2 separate regions of the Homo sapiens genome follow, and region 2 is linked to region 1. The links come from fine-mapping of genetic effects on gene expression. Tissue or cell type: whole blood. Region 1 holds a variant in brackets; the other region holds the start of a gene. All regions are shown on one strand. Distances are between the middles of the regions.

Region 1 (8,104 bases):
GTGGCGCGCGCCTGTAATCCCAGCTACTCAGAAGGCTGAGGCAGGAGAATCGCTTGAACCTGGGAGGCGGAGGTCGCAGTGAGCCGAGATCACACCATTGCACTCCAGCGTGGGCAACAAGAGCGAAACTCCGTCTAAAAAAAAAAAAAAAAAACACACAGCCAGGTTTCACTTTGCCAAAAGGCAGAATCTCTGTCTTTGAGCTTATAGTCCAATTGCAGAAATTAGACATTTAAGAAAAAAAAATTTAGATATACAACAAAGCAGTGTGTACTAGGTGACAAATGGAGTTGAGAAGAAATGCTCTGGTATGAAGGACAGAAGAGACTTGACATGGGCCTTGGGGTCTGGTAGAATATTCTGTATTTAGAGAGAGATGAGAAGATAAGATTGAATGACTTAGATTGAAGAAACTGTCAGAAGCTAGTCTGCAAAGAGTCTGCTTTGGACCCTAGGGGAGAACGCATCCCTATCCTTGGGGGACTCTCAGTGAGGCTGAAATTTTGAGCTCCTGTAATGGTCATGGCAGTGGTTTGCAAACTTTAGTGCATTGGAAGTCTTCTGGAGAACTTGTTAAAAATTCAGACTTTCAGATCCCATTCCTAGTAATTATAATTCAGATTGATGGTGGGGCCTGGGAATCTGCATTCTGGGTAATTCTACTGCAGGTAGTTCACATGTTGAGAAATGCTGCTCTGGGCAGCCTGGGGTCCCAGTAACCAACATGGTGTGTAAGCAGAGTTTGAAAGAGAGGGATGAGCATGCTGCAGTGATAGCAAGCAAGCAGGAGGGGAAAGACGGGAGACCTATACTTTAGCACTTCTGACCAGCACTCCCCTTTCTCCAGCTCCCCGAAGTGCATACCAACAGCTGTGACAACATCTCCCAGTTCTCTGTGGACAGCATCACCAGCCAGGAGAGCAAGGAGCCTGTGTTCATTGCAGCAGGGGACATCCGGTATGGCCAGATCACATTGCCCCTCATTTTTCATCCCTCTTTCAGGAACTTCCCATCTCTTTGTTACCTTCCTCTCCATCTCAATCATCTGTTGTTGGCCTGTGTCTTTCCCTCTTTCATTCTGTCCTTGTTTGGGGCCACCAAACTTGAGGCAATGAAGGTGTAGGTTGAGAAATTACTTGGGCTACCAAAGAAGGAAATTAAATTTTAAAAAGACTCCAAAGGGATGAAAGCACCAGAGGGGCCGGGCATAGTGGCTCACACCTGTAACCCCATCACTTTGGGAGGCCGAGGCGGGCAGATCACGAGGTCAGGAGATCGAGACCATCCTGGCTAACACGGTGAAACTCCGTCTCTATTAAAAATACAAAAAAATTAGCCAGGCGTGGTGGCGGATGCCTGTAGTCCCAGCTACTTGGGAGGCTGAGGCAGGAGAATGACGTGAACCCGGGAGGCGGAGCTTGCAGTGAGCCGAGATCGCACCACTGCACTCCAGCCTGGGCGACAGAACGAGACTCCGTCTCAAAAAAAAAAAAAAAAAAAAACAAGAAAGCACCAGAGGAAGGAGTTTGAGCAGTGTGTCTCAAGGTGGGGTCTCAAAGCGACTGTGTCAGAATCCAGGGGGAGGAAGGAGGACTTGTTGAAAATGCAGATTCTAGGCTGGGTGCGGTGGCTCACGCCTGTAATCCCAACACTTTGGGAGGCTGAGGCGGGTAGATCATAAGGTCAGGAGATCGAGACCATCCTGGCTAACACGATGAAACCCCATCTCTACCAAAAAAATACAAAAAAAAAATTAGCTGGGCGTGGTGGTGGGCGCCTGTAGTCCCAGCTACTCGGGAGGCTGAGGCAGGAGAATGGCGTGGACCCAGGAGGCGGAGCTTGCAGTGAGCCGAGATCTCGCCACTGCACTCCAGCCTGGGAGACACAGCGAGATTCTTATCTCAAAAAAAAAAAAAAAAAGAAAAGAAAAGAAAAATGCAAATTCTAGAGACACACCCATTCTGAATCAGCCTTGGTAGAGGAATATGGAGGGCCTGGTAATCTTAATTTTAACATGATTACAATCAGTTAGCAAAAAGGTGTCATTGGTTATGTTTTCTTCCATGAGTCCCTTTCAGCCTGGGTTCCTATCTTTGTGTGTCCAGAATCCAGGAGACAGTGCAGGAAATGTCAGTATAGACTGGGCATGGGGCTTGGGGGTAGCTTCTCCAAGCAAATGATGTATTTTCTTCCTGCCAGCCGGCGCCTTTCGGAACAGCTGGCTCATACCCCGACAGCCTTCAAACGAGACCCAGAAGATCCTTCTGCAGTTGCTCTCAAAGAGCCCTGGCAGGAGAAAGTACGGTGAGTTGGGTGTGGGTCTCTGAACCCCTCTCAAAGCTCAGAGGCAGTTGTAAGTGCTCACTGCACCAACTTTATTGTCCATCAGCCTCCAAAAAAATCTGTCAGGCTTCCAGGCTGTCTGGGTCCTTGCCCTATGGGGCGTTTGCTTGGGATTTTTTGTGGAAGCCATGTCTCTTGTCCTCACCCTGGCATCAACCTTTGACACCCTTTACTTCTGTCTTCACAGGCGGATCAGAGAGGGCTCCCCCTACGGCCATCTCCCCAATTGGCGGCTCCTGTCAGTCATTGTCAAGTGTGGGGATGACCTTCGGCAAGAGCTTCTGGCCTTTCAGGTGTTGAAGCAACTGCAGGTAAGAGAAGAGAAGGAGAGGCCAGGCACAGTGGCTGTAATCCCAGCACTCTGGGAGGCCGAGGCGGGTGGATTACAAAGTCGGGAGTTCAAGATCAGCCTGGCCAAGATGGTGAAACCCTGTCTCTACTAAAAATACAAAAATTATGGCCGGGTGTGGTGGTTCATGCCTGTAATCCCAGCACTTTGGGAGGCCGAGGCGGGTGGATCACGAGGTCAGGAGATCGAGACCATCCTGGCTAACACGGTGAAACCCTGTCTCCACTAAAAATACAAAAAATTAGCCGGGTGTGGTGGCGGGCGCCTGTAGTCCCAGCTACTCCGGAGGCTGAGGCAGGAGAATGGCGTGAGCCCGGGAGGCGGAGCTTGCAGTGAGCGGAGATTGCACCACTGCACTCCAGCCTGGGCGACAGAACGAGACTCCGTCTCAAAAAAAAAAAAATAAAAATAAAAATACAAAAATTAGCTGGGTGCAGTGATGGGCACCTGTAATCCCAGCTACTTGGGAGGCTGAGGCAGGAGAATAGCTTGAACCCAGGAGGCAGAGGTTGCAGTGAGCTGAGATTGTGCCACTGCAGTCTAGCCTGGGCGACA[G/C]AGCAAGACTCTGTCTCAAAAAAAAAGGAGAGAAAGGGAAACTCAGCCCAACTCCAGCCAACCGGAGGTGACTACACAGATTATTCTGCCGGGGACCACCTTCCTGCCAAGGTCTAAAACAAAAGCAGAGTAAAGAGAAGCTAGTGCAACTTTCCCCTGGGAAGAACAGCCATAGGAACAGCTCCACAGCGGCCTCTTTTGGCCCTTTTGTGACCTGCACCTGTCCTGTTCCAAGTCTGAACTTTAGAGTGCTAGGTTTGCCTTTTAGATCAAAACTTCCAAAATGTCCTGGCACCCTGGCATGGGCCTGTAGTCTCAGCTAGTCAGGAGGCTGAGGTGGGAGGATGTCTTGAGCCCAGGAGTTCTGGGCTGCAGTCCACTATGCCAATTGGGTGTCCGCGCTAAGTTCGGCATCAATATGGTGACCTCCTAGGAATAGGGGACCATCAGGTTGCCTAAGGGAGGGGTGAACTGGCCCAGGTCGGAAATGGAGCAGGTCAGAACTCCCGTGCTCATCAGTAACAGGATCGAGACTGTGAATAGCCACTGCACTCCAGCCTGAGCAACATAGCAAGACCCTGTCTCTGAGAAAAATATGCATTTGAAGAAATCAGCGTTTTTTTTTCCTTATTTTATTTTTTTTGAGATGGAGTTCTGCTCTTGTTTCCCAGGCTGGAGTGCAATGGCGCAATCTCGGCTCACCACAACCTCCGCCTCCCAGGTTCAAGCGATTCTCCTGCCTCAGCCTTCCCAAGTAGCTGGGATTATAGGCATGCGCCACCACGCCCGGCTAATTTTGTATTTTTAGTAGAGATAGGGTTTCTCCATGTGAGCCAGGCTGGTCTCGAACTCCCGACCTCAGGTGATCCGCCCACCTCCACCTCCCAAAGTGCTGGAATTACAGGCATGAGCCACCGCTCCTGGCTGAAGAAATCAGCATTTCTAACTGAAGTGAGCCAAAAAGAAAATTTTGCGGAGGCAAAGTTTAGTGACCCACCTTTTCCTAGTGTTAAGTGTGTGCTAAGGCACATGGAAGACCAATTTATTTATACAAGGCACTGAGATTTTTTCAAGAAATAGCTGTCAAATCTCAAGGTGAAGATCTAAATGTGAACAGTTTACTAATGCACTACTGAAGTTTAAATCTGTGGCACAATCATTGTAAACATGGGGTTCATTTCTCTAAATTGATTTCTAATCTGAAATTACTGGAAAACTTCCTTGCCCGTTTTTGCCAAACTCAATTTTTGGTTTTTGGCATATATCCATTATTCAAACTTAATGCCTCTAATTTTAATGCCAACACAATTGGTTGTAATCAAATTTTTAAATAATAATAATTTGGTCCTCCCCCCTTTAAAAAACAACATAAAAACTTCCCAAATTGGTCTGTAGCAGGTAGGTTATAGTGTGCTGAAATATTGATCTTCTGATACCCCTGGGTTGGTCACCTGCAAGCCACTTAATTGTTTAATACTGTTCTTTATACCATATAAATATTTTCATTTTCCAGAGAAGTCTTCTCTGGACCTAAATCCTTTCCTTTTTTCTTTTTTTTCGTCGGAGAGAGTCTCGCTCTGTCGCCCAGGCTGGAGTGCAGTGGTGCAATCTTGGCTCACTGCAACCTCCACCTCCTGGGTTCAAGCGATTCTCCTGCCTTAGCCTCCTGAGTAACTGGGATTACAGGCATACACCACCACGCCTGGCTAATTTCTGTATTTTTAGTAAAGACGAGGTTTCACTCTCTACTGAGGTTGGCCAGGCTGGTCTTGAACTCCTGACCTCAGGTGATCCGCCCTCCTTGGTCTCCCAGAGTGCTGGGATTACAAGCATAAGCCACCGCACCTGGCCTCTTTTTTCTTATTATTTGAACTTACAGCTCCCATTCTCCCTGCTTGAGAGGGGATAGTGAAGTTTCCTGTTCTCCCTGCCTGTCTTGGGCTTTCTACTTAGGTGATACCTTTTCCCACATACCTGAGTGTAGTTTCTGACTTTGTCAGGCCCTAGACTTCCTTTCCAAACTCCCTGGTCCTCACTGGGTTAAGTGAGTCTTACTCATTTGATGGCTTAGAATTCAATGCTACCAAGGAGAGAGGCTGGAGAAAGGGAAGAGTTTTAGCCTTCTTCTCTAGTTTGGAGAAAGATAAGAGTCCTGTATCCTCCATGTCTCCTCACAGTCCATTTGGGAACAGGAGCGAGTGCCCCTTTGGATCAAGCCATACAAGATTCTTGTGATTTCGGCTGATAGTGGCATGATTGAACCAGTGGTCAATGCTGTGTCCATCCATCAGGTGAAGAAACAGTCACAGCTCTCCTTGCTCGATTACTTCCTACAGGAGCACGGCAGTTACACCACTGAGGCATTCCTCAGTGCACAGCGCAATTTTGTGCAAAGTTGTGCTGGGTACTGCTTGGTCTGCTACCTGCTGCAAGTCAAGGACAGGTAGGTGACTTCTGCTGCTCATCCTAACATTTCTCCAGGGTTCTCTCTGTCCCTTCGTGTGTAGTTCTCAATTACTTATTACTGCCCTCCATGGCAAAGATGTGAAAAATGAAACAATGTATTTTAAGCAGAGACAGATGTGTTCCCATGACATTAAGTCAGGAGGCAGACTAATAAGAACTAGGGTAAAAGGGCAAAGAAATGAAGGATTTATGGGAGGACTAAGGGTTTGAGTGAGCAGGGTCTTCAAGGACAAGGGAAAATGATGACAGAGGAAGCTGCAGGGGAGGTACATCCCAGCTAGAAGAAATAATTGAATGTGATTAAAGCACAGACTGCACTGCATGGCAGTGGAGTAGGAGGTGGTACCATGAGGCAGGTAAATTGAGGCCAGTTGAAGAAGGGCCTTCATTGTGAAGCTTAGGTGTTTTATTTTGCAGGCAGAGGAATGACATGATCCAGTCTGTGTTGATTAAATGCCCTGTGGCACTGTGGGTGAAGGTGGATGTAATTGGGTGTTTAGCAACAAAGCAAGAGATAATAGGGCCTGGCACTAAGGGTAGTGGTTAGTGACTGAGAGCAGAAAGGAGAAACATGATGGAGATGAAGTGGAAACTCTCAGCCATGAACTCTCCTCACTTCTTATTCCAGCATATGATTTCCACAGCTTTTAAGTATCTGTTGTTTTGCCCAGAGCTGTCATTTTTTTTCAATATGACATGACCTTGATGAAAACTAACTACACATATAGGTGAGGCACATAATGTACAAAAATAATTACACCATCTAGGCCCTGCCTTCTAAGAGTATCTCCCAACAGTGACCCAGGGTCTCTGCCCTGAATGCTCCTATGAGTTCCAGCTCTAGACCCTCGGCACAGGGCAGCTGTCCTGGAAAGGTGGAAATGCAATGGCCAGTGCTGCTGGGGCTTCCAGTAACATGGTGGCCCATTAAGATCTAGCTAATAATGGCTGGGTGTGGTGGCTCATGCCTATAATCCCAGTACTTTGGGAGGCTGACACGGGTGGATCACCTGAGGTCAGGAGTTTGAAACCAGCCTGGCCAACATGGTGAAACCCCATCTCTACTAAAATACAAAAAGAAAATTAGCTGGGCCTGGTGGCAGGCGCCTAATCCCAGCTATTTGGGAGGCTGAGCAGGAGAATCACTTGAACCCGGGAGGCAGAGGTTGCAGTGGGCCAAGATGGCACCATTGCACTCCAGACTGGACGACAAGGGTGAAATTCCAACTCAAAAAAAAAAAAAAATTTATATATATACATACACATACATACATACATTAGCTGGGCTTGGTGATGCACACCTGTAATCCCAGCTACTCGGGAGGTAAGGCAGGAGAATTGCTTGAACCCAGGAGGTGGAGATTGCAGTGAGCCAAGATCATGCCACAGTACTTTAGTCTGGGCAACAAAGCGAGTCTCAAAAAAAAAAAAAAAAAATCTAGCCAACAAGGCCGAGGCAGGAGGATCGCTTGAGCCCAGGAGTTCGAGACTAGCCTAGGCAACATAGTTAGATCCCGTCTCTACAAAAAATAAAAATTAGCCAAGCATGGTGGTATACAGCTGTGGTCCCAGCTACTTTGGAGGCTGAGGTGGGAGGATCACTTGAGCAGGAGGTTAAGGGCAACAGAGTGAGACCCTGTCTAAACAAAACAAAACAACTAGCTAGCTAGCTAGCTAACAGAGCAGCTTATTAGAAATGTAGCATCTAGGCTGGATGCAGTGGCTCACGCCTGTAATCCCAACACTTTGGGAGCCTGAGGCAGGTGAATCACCTGAGGTCAGTAGTTCAAGACCAGCCTGACCAACATGGCAAAACCCCATATCTACTAAAAATACCAAAAATTCACCAGGCGTGGTGGCGCATGCCTGTAATCCCAGCCACTCAGGAGGCTGAGGCAGGACAATTGCTGGAACCCGGGAGGTGGAGGTTGCAGTGAGATGAGATCGCGCGACTGCACACCAGCCTGGGTGACACTGAGACTCCATCTCAAAAAAAAAAATAAAAATTAGTCTTAGGCTGGGTGTGGTGGCTCACGCCTGTAATCCCAGCACTTTGGGAGGCCGAGGTGGGCAAATCGCCTGAGGTCAGGAGTTTGAGACCAGCATGACCAACACGGTGAAACCCCATCTCTACTAAAAATAAAAAATTAGCTGGGTGTGGTGGCGGGCGCCTGTATTCCCAGCTACTTGGGAGGCTGAGGCAGGAGAATCACTTGAACCCAGGAGGCAGAAGTTGCAGTGAGCCAAGATCGCACCATTGCACACCAGCCTGGGTGACAGAGTGAGACTTCATCTCAAAAAAAAAAAAAAGAAATCTAGCATCTATTAAGTTCTGCCATGGCCTGACATTCTTATATTTAAACCAGATGAAAACCCTGTCAGACACGTGTT
Region 2 (8,104 bases), 46 kb after region 1:
AGGATCACTTGAGCCCCGGAGGTCGAGGCTGCAGTGAGCCAAGATCACACTACTGCACTCCAGCCTGGGTGACAGAATGAGACCCTGTCTCCCCCAAAAAAAAAAAAAAAAAAAAAAACACTCGAAAAGGGTAATACAATGGCACATGTGCAAGGCAGTCACATCAACAGCAGGTTCCCCATGATGCACTACATGGGGCCAAGAACTATGTGCATACTGCCACAAAAAGAATAAAATACCTTGGCTGGGTGTTGTGGCTCATGCCTGTAATCTCAGCACTTTGGGAGGCTGAGGCTGGTGGATCACCTGAGGTCAAGTGTTCGAGACCAGCCTGACCAATATGATGAAACCTCATCTCTACTAAAAATACAGAAAAAAATTACCCGGGCATGGTGGCACGCACCTGTAATCCCAGCTACTCGGGAGGCTGAGACAGGAGAATCATTTGAACCCGGGAGGTGGAGGTTGCAGTGAGCCGAGATGGCGCCACTGCACTCCAGCCTGGGCAACAAAAGCGAGACTCCATCTCAAAAAAACAAACAAATAGACAAACAAACCTAGGAATACAACTAACCAGGGAGATGAAAGAGCTCTACAATGAGAATTACAAAATACCGCTCAAATAAATCAAAGAAGATATAAACAAGTGGAAAAACATCTCATGCTCATGAATAGGAAGAATCAATATCATTAAAATGGCCATACTGCCGAGCATGGTGGCTCACACCTGTAATTCCAGCACTTTGGGAGGCTGAGGTGGGCAGATCACTTGAGGCCAGGAGTTCAAGACCAGCCTGGCCACATGGCCAAACCCCATCTTTACTAAAAATACAAAAAAAAAAAAAAAAAAAAAAGAAAGCCAGGTATGGTGGCGGGTGCCTGGAATCCCAGCTACTCAGAAGGCTGAGGCACAATAATCACTTGAACCTGAGAGGCGGAGGTTGCAATGAGCCGAGATCACACCACTGCACTCCAGCCTGGGAGACAGAGCAAGACTCTGTCTCATAAATTAATTAATTAATTAATTAAAATTGGCCATTCTTCCCACAGCAATTTACAGATTCAATGCTACTCCTATCAAACTACCAAAAACATTCTTCAAAGAACTAGAAAAAACTATTTGAAAATTCATATGGAACCAACAAAGAGCCAGAAAAGCCAAGGCAATCCTAAGCTAAAAGAACAAAGCTGGAGGCAACTTTACCCAACTTCAAACTATTACTTAGGGCTACAATAACCAAAACCGCATGGCACTGGTACAAAAACAGGCACAGAGACCAATGGGACAGAATAGAGAGTCTAGAAATAAAGCCGCACACCTATGACCATCTATTCTTTGACAAAGCTGACAAAACAAGCAGTGAGGAAAAAGAGTCCCTATTCAATAACTGGGGATACTGGCTAGGCTAGCCATATGCAGAAGATTGAAGCTGGACTCCTTTCTTATACCATACACAAAAATTAACTGAAGATGGATTAAAGACAAGGTAAAACCCAAAACTATAAAAATCCTGGAAGACCGGCCGGGCACAGTGGCTCACGCCTATAATGCCAGCACTTTGGGAGGCTGAGGCGGGCGGATCACCTGAGGGTGGGAGTTCGAGACCAGCCTGACCAACATGGAGAAACCTGGTCTCTACTAAAAACACAAAATTAGCTGGGCGTGGTGGCGCATGCCTGTAATCCCAGCTACTAAGGAGGCTGAGGCAGGAGAATCGCTTGAACACGGGAGGCGGAGGTTGCGGTGAGCCGAAGGTTGCGGGGAGCTGAGATTGTGTCATTGCACTCCAGCCTGGGCAATAAGAGCGAAAAAAAAAAAAAGTGGGCAAAGGAGCCGGGCACAGTGGCTCAACGCCTGTAATCCCTGCACTTTGGGAGGCTGAGGCGGGTGGATCACCTGAGCTCAGCAGTTTGAGACTAGCCTGGCCAACATGATGAAACCCCGTCTCTACCAAAAATACAAAAAAGCTGGGCGTGGTGGCGGGCACCTGTAATCCCAGTTACTCAGGAGGCTGAGGCAGGAGAATCACTTGAACCAGGGAGGCGGAGGTTGCAGTGAGCTGAGATGGCGCCACTGTACTCCAACCTGGGCAACAAGAGCAAAACTCCTTCTCAAAGAGAAAAAAAAAAAAAAAAGTGGGCAAAGGACATGAACAGACATCAGACACTTTATTTTTATTTATTTATTTATTTATTTATTTATTTTATTATTATTTTTTTTTTTTTGAGAGGGAGTCTCACTCTGTCGCCCAGGCTAGAGTGCAGTGGCGCCATCTCGGCTCACTGCAACCTCCACCTCCGGGGTTCAAACGATTCTCCCACCTCAGCCTCTGGAGTAGCTGGGACTACAGGCGTCCACCACCACGCCTGGCTAATTTTTGTATTTTTAGTAGAGATGGGGTTTCACCATGTTGGCCAGGCTGGTCAGTAACTCCTGACCTCAGGTGATACACCCACTTCAGCCTTCCAAAGTGCTGGGATTACAGGCCTGAGCCACGCCCCAGCCAGACACTTTTCAAAAGACGATATACATACAGCCAACAAGCCTATTAAAAAAACCTCAATATCACTGATCATTAGAGAAATGCAAATAAATCAAAACCACAACGAGATACCACCTAACACCAGTCAGAATGGCTATTACTAAAAACTAAAAAAATAACAGATGCTGGCAAGGTTGCGAGAAAAGAGAACACTGTTCTATCGTTGGTGCAAGTGTAAATTAGTTCAATCACTGGGAATCACTTGAACCAGGGAGGCGGAGGCTGCAGTGAGCCAGACTGGGCCACTGCACTCCAGTCCGGGAGACAGAGCGAGACCGTCTCAAAAAAAAATTATTCATCGTTTATCTGAAACTCAAATTTCACTGGGCATCCTGTATGTTATCTGGCAATGCTATGCTCCCCCGAGAAAATAAAAAGAAGAAATCTCATAGGTGCCTGTTTCACCCAATCGGTGATTTGTGTTCGTCAACTATTCTGTATTACATTCAGTGATTACACTTAGAAGGAACTCTTGAAACCCTGCAAAAATTTATGTCCTCCTCTTCTAATGTGACTCGTAATAGGTACTCAGCCCAAGCCTGAAACTGACAAAGAGAGCTACCTCACCGGATAAAGCCTTTGTGTCAGACAGCCGTGGGTTTAAATCTTGACTCCACCACTTAACTAGCTGTATGATTTTGGACAAATCACTTAAAATCGCTGAGACTCGGTATCCTGAACCGTAAAATGGAGAGATAATTTACCTTAAGGTGTGGTTGTGAGGTATAAGTGAGATAAACAAAATGACTGATACATAAAAAGCAATCTGTAAATGGTACCTTTGAAGATGATACAGGGAAAGGTAATGAAGTTAGAGACGAGGGAATGGGGAGAGGAAGGGATTAATAATCTATTTTCCTAATAGACGTTATTTTGCAAAGAAAGGAGGGCAGAAAACTATTACGATGAGTCCGAAAAGCAGAACTGTAGCTAAAGACAGACCCGGGCTGCTCTAGAGAAGACGGCGCTAGAACAGAGAAAGGAAGCAGGAATGACCAGTCAATGACCGTCCCCCTGGGGGTAACAGTGGTAACCCGGGACTATCCGCCACTCCAGGGCCCCGGGATGACTCAGGGAGTCCAGCGGGCTCCTTACCTCCGGGGCCAGGGCCGCCTCTCGCCCATGAGCCCCTGGCCCCCACCCCAGGCCCTCCCTGCCTTGGCGCTACACGCGCCCGGAACCCAGCTCTGCCCCTCCTGCCCCGAAGTAGCTCCTCACCACACCATAGTGCTTTCCAACACCATCTTGCCACCTTCCTCCCTCCCGACCGGGTCTCCGGGACGGCCTAACAACAACTCCTCCAATTGGCCCGTCGCTCTTCACCAATCACAGACCTCGGCTTGGCCAGCTGCTTCCGCCTCCGTCCCCCACGTTGCGTTCTGGGAGTTGTAGGTGCCGCCAAACAAATTTGTAGGCGTCTTGAGGGTAGTTGAAGGGAATCGCGGTAACACAAAAAACAGGATCTAGCCTCCACTTTCCCTGCCATTGCAGTTCTCAGTTGGGGTTTCCCGCTGGCCGGATCTCAGGGGAGCTATGGAGGAACCTTTGAAAGTGCTGTGTCGATTCCGGCTTCGGCATTTTAAAAAAGTGTCGGGATCGGCCGAGCGCGGTGGCTCACGCCTGTTAGCCCAGCACTTTGGGAGGCCAAGGCGGGCGGATCACGAGGTCAGGAGTTCGAGACCAGCCTGGCCAGCATGGTGAAACCCTGTCTCTACTAAAAATACAAAAAATTAGCCGGGCATGGTGGCGCACGCCTGTAATCCCCGCTACTCGGGAGGCTGAGGCAGGAGAATTACTTGAACCCGGGAGGCAGAGATTGCAGTGAGCCGAGATCGCGCCACTGCACTCCAGCCTGGGGGACAGAGTGAGACTCCGTCTCAAAAAAAGAAAAAAAAAAGTGTCGGGATCGCTAATGACTTTCTACAGCCCTCAGTTCCCTGTAGAATTTTAATTCAACAAGCCCTTATACCCTTCAATTGAATTTATTTGTATATTTATCTCCTCCCTCGTTTAACTAAGGGTGGGCAACGTGCCTTTTTTTTTTTTTTTTTTTTTTTTTTTTTTTTTTTTTTTGAGACGGAGGAGTCTCGCTCTTTCACCCAGGCTAGAGTGCAGTGGCTCGATCTCGGCTCACTGCAACCTCCACCTCCTGGGTTCCAGGGATTCTCCTGCCTCAGCCTCCCAGGTAGCTGGGACTACAGGGGCATTCCACCATGCCCGGCTAATTTTGTATTTTTAGTAGAGACGAGGTTTCACCATGTTGGCCAGGCTGGTCTCGATTTCCTGACCTCAGATGATCCACCCACCTCAGCTTCCCAAAGTGCTGGGATTACAGGCGTGAGCCACCACACCTGGCCGGCAACGTGTCTTAATCTTTACAATTCCCTAAGCCCAGTACAGAGCCCGGAAAAGATTTGACAACTCAATTATATTAACTAATCTGCCAAAGAACAAACCACTAAACCGTTTTGGTTAATCAAAAATTACATTCAAGGCCTGATGCAATGGCTTAGGTTTTATAATCCCAGCGTTTTGGGAGGCCCAGGCAGGAGGATCAACTCAGGCTAGGAGTCTGAGACCAGCCTGGACAACACAGCCAGACTCCGTCTCTACAAAGTTTTATTGTTTGAGACAGGGTGTCGCTCTGTTGCCCAGATTGGAGTGCAGTGGCCTGATCTCGGCTCACTGCAATCTCCACCTCCCGGGTTCAAGCCATCCTCCTGCCTCAGCCTCCTGAGTAGCTGGGGCTATAGGTGCATGCCACCAAGCCCAGCTAATTTGTTTTTAATTTTTTGATGTGGGAGGATGGCTTGAGCGCATGAGTTCGAGACCAGCGTAGGCAACATAGCCAGACCCCATCTCTGAAAAAAAAAAAGTCTCAAAGTGTTGGGATTACAGGCGTGAGCCATCACATCAGCTGGATATTTGATATTAAGCAATTTTTTTAGGCATGATAATAGTGTTAAAGTTATCACCCTTATAAAAGTAGGCTTTATTAAGGGTTATATGTTGTATTCATAGATAAAAAAAGTATATGAAGTTTGGGATTTAACTTAATCCTCTGGAAGAAACAAATAGTTTTGTTTTTTGAGACAGGGTCTCAAAGTAAAACAAAAGAGACAAGGTCTCACTGGGCTGGAGTGCAGCAGTGGTGCAATCATACATAGCTCACTGCAACCTCTAACTCCTGGCCTCCCATCTCAGCCTCCGAAAACTGGGATTACAGGCTTGAGCCACTGCACCCGGCCACGCTGGTCTTATTTATGTTGATAATTATTGAGGCTGGGTTATGTGTACATAGTGGTTCACCATACTACTCTACTTTTGGTTTGGAAATTCCCATAATGAAAAAAAGAAGGCCAGCTGGGCACGGTGGCTCACGCCTGTAATCCCAGCACTGAGAGGCCGAGGTGGGCAGATCACTTGAGGTTGGGAGTCCGAGACCAGCCTGGATACCCCCGTCGCTACAAAAAAATACAAAAATTAGCTGATTGTGATGGTGCCAGCCTGTAGTCCCAGCTACTTGAGAGACTGAGGTAGGAAAGTCGCCTGAGCCCAGAAAGTCAAGGCTAGAGTGAGCTGAGATTGCTCTGGGTAACAGAGCAAGACTAAAAAAGAAAACCAAGGCTGGGAAATCTCAGCACTTTGGGAGGCCGAGGCGGACGGATCATAAGTTCAGGAGATCGAGAACATCTTGGCCAACATGGTGAAATCCCATCCTACTAAAGATACAAAAATTAGCCGGGCATTGTGGTGGGTGCCTATAGTCCCAGCTACTCTGGAGGCTGAGGCAGGAGAATCACTTGAATCCGGGAGGAAAAGGTTGCAGTGAGCCGAGATCGTGCTATTGTACTCCAACCTGCGCGACAAGAGTGAAACTCCGTCTCAAAAAAAGAAAAACAAAACTAATAAAGAATGAGACTTCATCTCTGAATACATCTCAGAATAGCTGAGATTGACATGCTTAAGGGTAAAATATCAGACCAGATGACGATTTCCAACTTTATTATCCTATGATTTTAATTTCTCTTTTAGTTAGAAGTTTTACACTAATAGACCCTACTTGTATCTGAATATAAATTAGAGCATATAGCTAGAGAATAAGCACTAGTCGCTGCTCACCGCTAGAGGGACCCTCTGATCATAAGAGGATTATCTACACCACCCATTCAGTAGTTTTGAGTACACTCTGAGTGACAAGGTCAGGGATGCAGAACATTTATGCCTAAAACATGTTAACCTCCAATTCCTATTAGGGAAAAAAGTTTTCTCCTTATCCAGACAAAAGGAGGACTGGCTGGGGCTGTGGGAAAATCAAATTCAAAACTTTGAGAATCTGGGCCGAATGCAGTGGCTCACGCCTGTAATCCCAGCACTTTGGGAGGCCGAGGTGAGCGGATCACTTGAGGCTAGGAGTTTGAGACCAGCCTGGCCAACATGGTGAAATCTGTCTCAAAAAAAAAAAAAAAAAAAAGAAAGAAAGAAAGAAAAAGAAAAGAAAAATGAAAAGAAACTTTGAGAATCCCCCATTCCTCTTCCAATCCAAGTACTTGCTTTTTCTTTCTTCTTTTTTTTTTTTTTTTTTTTTTTGAGATGGAGTGTCACTCTGTTGCCAGGGTGGAGTGCAATGAATGGTGCAATCTCAGCTCACTGCAACCTCTGCCTCCTGGGTTCAAGCGATTCTCCTGTCTCAGCCTCCCGAGTAGCTGGGATTACAGGCGCCCGCCACCATGCCCGGTTAATTTTTTTTTTTTTTTTTTTTTTTTGAGAAGGAGTTTCACTCTTGCTGCCCAGGCTGGAGTGCAAGGGCTCGATCTTGGCTCACCGCAACCTCTGCCTCTCAGGTTCAAGCGATTGTCTTGCCTCAGCATCCCAAGTAGCTGGGATTACAGGCGTGCACCCACCACGCCCAGCTAATTTTTTGTATTTTTAGTAAAGATGGGTTTTCTCCATGTTGGTCATGCTGGTTCTCCCTGTTGGTCGAACTCCCAACCTCAGATGATCTGCTCGCCTCGTCATCCCAAAGTGCCGGGATTACGAGCGTGAGCCACCGCGCCTGGCCTAATTTTTGTATTTTTAGTAGAGATGGTGTTTCGCATTGTTGGCCAGGCTGCTCTTGAACTCCTGGCCTCAAGTGATCCACCCATCTTGGCCTCCCAAAGTGCTGGGATTACAGGTGTGAGCCACTGGACTTGGCCAATCCTCTGTTTAATTCTGATGGAACTTTGTTAGTCTCTCAATTATTTTGTATCACATCCTATTGGGGCAAAAAATATTTCAGGGTTCCCAATATTGCCTCTAACTATACTTATTCCAATATTCTCATCATGATCTCTTCCTTGTTCTCAAAAACAGACCATTCTCATGCATCTAGGTCCTTGTGCTGAAGTGAAACATTCTCTTAACACTTCTTTCGCACGTAACTGCTAATTTTTCCCCCTTTTATGTTCTGTGCCACCTTCAGAGAGCTTAAGTAGCTGTCTCACATATAACATATTGTTTTTGTGATTTGTGTTCCTCCTGGAAACTAGAAACTTTTGAAGGACAATTATTTCTTTGAT

Evidence for each region. PIP is the estimated chance that this variant, and not a neighbour inherited with it, causes the effect.
Region 2: it holds the start of PSMD4, and the variant in region 1 is fine-mapped to the expression of PSMD4 in whole blood (TOPMed, PIP above 0.99).

What each region holds. Positions count from the first base shown.
Region 1 is chr1:151,296,394-151,304,497 of GRCh38, reverse strand. PI4KB (phosphatidylinositol 4-kinase beta) reads left to right here. Exons shown (of 12, transcript NM_001369623.2): 6 at 848-957; 7 at 2,200-2,304; 8 at 2,531-2,654; 9 at 5,425-5,690. It also overlaps the pseudogene RN7SL444P. Among named protein-coding and RNA genes, the nearest start is that of ZNF687, 18 kb to the right of the region's middle. RefSeq lists an enhancer at 7,993-8,104. The variant G/C (reference allele first, on the strand shown) is at 3,248.
Region 2 is chr1:151,250,466-151,258,569 of GRCh38, reverse strand. It overlaps PSMD4 (proteasome 26S subunit ubiquitin receptor, non-ATPase 4), which reads right to left and starts at 3,836. Exons shown (of 10, transcript NM_002810.4): 1 at 3,762-3,836. The coding sequence starts at 3,787. RefSeq lists a silencer at 3,575-3,714 and an enhancer at 3,755-3,944.